2 linked regions of the Homo sapiens genome follow. The protein of the gene in region 2 interacts with the protein of the main gene of each other region in a pairwise test. Each region holds a gene or a part of one and is shown on either strand. Other genes may lie near its edges.

Evidence for each region. Proteins that work in one complex are often made in the same cells at the same time.
Region 1: the proteins of RXRB (region 2) and UBL7 interact in binary tests that used the Homo sapiens proteins (3 or more experiments, as listed by UniProt).

What each region holds. Positions count from the first base shown.
Region 1 is NC_000015.10:74,445,477-74,448,318, reverse strand, and holds the end of UBL7 (ubiquitin-like protein 7), read left to right. Parts: intron 1-2,091; coding exon 2,092-2,229; 3' UTR 2,230-2,342; downstream 2,343-2,842.
Region 2 is NC_000006.12:33,193,088-33,195,376, reverse strand, and holds the end of RXRB (retinoic acid receptor RXR-beta), read left to right. Parts: coding exon 1-14; intron 15-326; coding exon 327-432; intron 433-547; coding exon 548-695; 3' UTR 696-1,789; downstream 1,790-2,289. UniProt on the Homo sapiens protein: Receptor for retinoic acid. Retinoic acid receptors bind as heterodimers to their target response elements in response to their ligands, all-trans or 9-cis retinoic acid, and regulate gene expression in various biological processes.

The DNA of each region.
Region 1 (2,842 bases), on a different chromosome or scaffold from region 2:
GCACACTCTCAGACCATACACAGTGGTCACTAGGCTTCTCCTGCCCCTAGTGACCATGGCCTGACTCCCTAGACCACCTGGCTTAGATAATCATGGCCATTTCATTCATTCATTCAGTGATCATTGACTGAGCATGTGTATACTAGGCCTGAGTCCAGATGCTGGGCTAGTGGCAAGCTGGTTCTCATCCCTGCCATGGAGGGGCACCAGGCAGGCACTGAGCTGGGGAGCAACAAGGCAAGAAACCCAGCTGCTTGAAGTAAGGGCCTAGGTCAGACAAAACTTTTCTGAGAGAGGGGTATTTAAGCTGATTGTCAGAAGAATTAGTTAGAAGTTAGCTAGCCAGGGAAGGGGGTTTGAGGTAGGAAGGGGCTGATTTCCAGGTGAAGACAGCTACCTGTTTGTGCACATGTGTGGAGGTATATGTGACATACTCAAAACTACAAGGCTAGGATGCAGTGTCCAGTGTAGAAGATCCGCAGATGGGGCCAGAGAAAGAGCAGGAGCCTACGAGAGGGGCTTGCATGCCAACCTGCGGAGATTAGACTTGATGACTTGATGTAGCAGTCACCAGGGATCCCTGGGAGGCATTGATTGATTGATTGATTGATTGAGACAGGGTGTCACTCTGTCACCCAGGCTGGAGTACAGTGGTGTGATCACAACTTACTGTAGCCTCAACTTCCTGGGCTCAGGTGATCCTCCCACCTCAGCCTCCCGGGTAGCTGGGACTACAGGTATGCACCACCATGCCTGGCTAATTTTTTGTATTTTTTGTAGAGATGGGGGGGTCTCCCTATGTTGCCCAGCCTGGTCTTGAACTCTTGGGCTCAAGCGATTCACCCACCTTAGCCTCCCAGAGTTCTGGGATTACAGGTGTGAGCCACCACACCTGGCCCATGGGAGGCTTTAAGGAGGAGAAAGGTCACCCTAGCAGCTAAGTGGAATACCTGAGGGGCCAGCATTGTAGTTCACAGCTCCATGCATGAGCAGTTTGGTTCACGTCTGTTTTCCTCTATTCCACATAGTAAGCCTATGGGTAGAGCATCATCCCTGGAACTTGTCTGGGGTCATAAGGCCATGAAGTCGTAACGATAGGGTTCAAGCCTGTGTGGTTTTCACTGTTCCATGTGGTCCTTGTAGACAGTGAGGGAACAGAAGCAGGATTCGTGAACAACTTGTCTTCTCCATTCTTGCATCTCCCCTGTTGCTAGATGCCTGTTTACTTTATTCCCTAGCTCAGAAGCTTTCACTGGTTCCACCTGGCCTGTAAAATGAATTCAAATTGATCTGTGTGCATTTTTTTTAAGCCCTCCATGTTCTCATCACTGCCTGCCTCTTTGACTTTGCTTTTCTTCCCCTTTGCATTGCCTTCTTCCCACATGTGAACACGTTGTTTTCCCTAAATTGTGCTCATCCCTGCTGTCATGAAATAGAGATATTAATGAAGCTATGAAAGTACTAGAAGAAAATATGGGTGAATTTCTTCAAATCCTTATAGTAGGGAAGGGCTTTCTTGGCTGAAACTCAGTATCCAGGAGCCATTAAATAAAAGTTATGCATTTTGGGTTTGTAAAAGCGAAAAATTTAAAACATCTCTTACAGTCCACAAATAGATATACCTACTATATACCACAAAAATTTAAGACATTTAAAAAAAGGTGAAAATTTCTGCGTGGCAAACCAAACCAAACAAAAAACCGAAGCAAAGTCCAAAGGCTAACAAACTGGGAAAAAAATCTGTAACACTCATCACATAAAGAGCAAAATCTTGCTGTTGTGTGTGTACACATAGCAAGAGAAAGAAAGTAATTTAGCCTCTTGGAATTCAGACAGTGAATAATTTGTACATTCTCTTTTGATCCTTATGCCAAGAATTTCCTTTTTTTATTGTAAAACTTTGGATTTGTTCTCTTAACCCTCAAGCCTATCTTTTAGTCTTCCTAGAAGCACCGTGTTCTGTGGAACTCAGCATCAGCAGCTTTGCTGAGGACTCCCCCATCTTCCTTTCCTTCCCCGGAAAGCACAGACCTAAGTGAGTCTTCACTGGATCCCAGCTAACAGCTTCTGCCCATTCCTATCTTTCCACAGAGCCAGTGGCAGCCCCAGCTGCAGCAGCTACGTGACATGGGCATCCAGGACGATGAGCTGAGCCTGCGGGCCCTGCAGGCCACCGGTGGGGACATCCAAGCAGCCCTGGAGCTCATCTTTGCTGGAGGAGCCCCATGAACTCCCTGCTTCCCCTGAACCCCCAGCAAGTTGCAGAGGCTACTGCCCTTGGGAGGCACTCATGAAGGTGCCTCCATCTCTCCCTTCCCCAATATACCTGATGGTCAACTCTCCTGCTTTGTCCAGTTCTTGACCTTTCTGGCTGATCTGAGTTGGTGGAGGCAGTGGGGCAAACAAGGTGTGCTGGTCTTGATGCTGTGGCATCAAAGCAGGGCTGGCCCCTAGTTCTGGGCCCTGGATGGAGGATGTTAGACCCTACATCATGGGATGCTGTGAGATACCCATGTTAACTTCTGGGAGAAGTTTCCAGCCGTAGCCCCCAGACTCTCTGGGGCTTTGGAGTTTGGGAGCCTCAGGATGTGCCGAAGTCTAGGCAGAGCTATCACCCAATCTTCAGGGTGGCTGCTGGATTACAGCTGTGCCCAGAAGAGGCTTATGCTTCCGAGATGTCCAGTCTATGGAGTGGCTGGGTGGACTTTCAGGGGAAGCACATGGAGGCAGCTTGCCTTCCACATTTCTCTCTCTCTCAATGGCTTCCACAGATTTCTTTGTCCACCCCACCAGTCTATTCTCACCAAGCATTTTTTGATGCTTGTTCTGTAATGATTCCAGA
Region 2 (2,289 bases):
TCTGTTTAATCCAGGTAAGAGGAGGATTACCTTTGTCTCTCAAGGCCAAGGCAACCTTGGAGCCTCCTCTTCTCCGAGACTCCTAAGTTACCCAGCTATCCCCCTCAGTAAGACCCTCAACCTGGAAATCTCCCAACTGGCCGAGGAAAAACCCACATCCACGGATCCATCCCACAAACCCAGTGGGCCCTGCTTCCCTTGCCAGGCCTCTGGTAAAGGGCAAGCAAGTGCAGCCCAAAAGGGGCATCCTGTGGCTCACATCTGCATGGCCATCCTGATTTGGTTTGTCTTCATTTCTCTTCCTCCTCTCTTCCCTGCCATCCCAGATGCCAAGGGCCTCTCCAACCCTAGTGAGGTGGAGGTCCTGCGGGAGAAAGTGTATGCATCACTGGAGACCTACTGCAAACAGAAGTACCCTGAGCAGCAGGGACGGTGAGATGGGGCTGGGGGGCACTGAGGCTCCCTTGGGGGTGGGGAGTGCTATGAGGATGTGTTCAGGGCCCGTGTGCTTCCAGCTCTCAATCCCCTTCTCCCACCTCCACCCCAGGTTTGCCAAGCTGCTGCTACGTCTTCCTGCCCTCCGGTCCATTGGCCTTAAGTGTCTAGAGCATCTGTTTTTCTTCAAGCTCATTGGTGACACCCCCATCGACACCTTCCTCATGGAGATGCTTGAGGCTCCCCATCAACTGGCCTGAGCTCAGACCCAGACGTGGTGCTTCTCACACTGGAGGAGCACACATCCAAGAGGGACTCCAAGCCCTGGGGCAGGGTGGGGGGCCATGTTCCCAGAACCTTGATGGGGTGAGAAGTACAGGGCAGAACCAAGAACATAAACCCTCCAAGGGATCTGCTTGATATCCCAAGTTGGAAGGGACCCCAGATACCTGTGAGGACTGGTTGTCTCTCTTCGGTGGCCTTGAGTCTCTGAATTTGTCGGGTTCTCCCATGATTTGGGGTGATTTCTCACCCTCTGTCCTTCCCCCAGCACAAAGCACTGGCCTTGCCTCCAGGACCTTGCTTCCTTCTCATCTTGCCTCATTTTGCTTCCCATCTGAAGAGTGGAAATGGGGAACTCCCCCAGAGGTGGATACTGGGGGGCAGGCCTCCCAAGCTGATGGACATGAGAGTAGGGCCCTGACAGGCCTTCCTCCTCTCAAACCTGGCAGATGGGGGCCTCTCTGGAAGAGGGAGGGGCCCTGTCACTGTCCAGAGTCTCTTTTTACACTTCACCTCCTTCTGCAGTCAGACTGAAATATAAAAAAGGTGGTGGTGGTGGTGAAGGGGCTGGTGGAGATGTAGGAACCGATCTGCTATTTTTAATTTCCTGTGAGGATAGAGACTTGCAGTTAGACTCAAAGAAGTACTGTACTTTCCCAGGTTGACTAAGAAATGCCAGTGGTGGAGGTGGGTGTTTGGGAAAGGCAGGGCCCTGAAATGGCCTGTCCCTAGGGCTCTCCAAGCACTAGCCTTCCCAGCTTCCCGCCGCCCCCCCTATCTCTTCCTGTCTAACTTGGGGAAGGGGCCTGGGCTGTGAGGACAGGGCCCCCACAGGGGATGGTTTCACGAGTGTAGTCCCGGAGGCCTTCCCTTTACAGCTCTCCTCCAGCCCTGGGCACATAGCATAGGCTGGGGACACAGGATCCTGGCCTGAGAATTGAGGGGAGGTGGCCAGCCCGCAGAGGTGGGGTGCTGGGGCTGCATGATTTTTGCCCTGCGTCCCTTCTCTTTGGGGCTCCTTTCCCCTCTCATACATAAAATCGCTTTCAAATTAAAATCGCTGTTTTCTGGACTGAGGTGACTGTATGAGGATGGGCAGCGCCGTTTCGGGCTTGGGGGGGGTATCCGGTTGGGAGCTCCGGACGCGATCCCTGGACGCCGCCGCCGAGGTTCCGTGGGGCCCAAGAGGTGCACGCAGGGTGGGGGACACAAGGCAAGCTTTGTCGGGGAGGGGGGGAGAGGGTGTGCCAGGCTGGGGGCGGGGCCGGCCGGAGGAGGAAGGGGGGGCGGTGGATTCTCAAAGGCGCCTTGTTCGCTCGTGCCCTCTCCGCGCCAGCGGGCGGCGGCGCCTCGGCTCGCTGCGGCCTTCCCTCCGGGCGCGCTGCGGGCTCCGGGCAGACCCGGCGCCGTGCCCGCTCGTGGGGGCGCACTGGGCGCCGAGCGCTGCGTGCTTCTCAGGCGTTGCCCGCCCGGAGGCGGCCCACGTCCCCGAGTGACCCCATTTCCCTGGACCCTTCCAACCAGAGTCGACTGCTCGCTCATCTTACCACTGCTCCCCCTCTACCTCGGCTC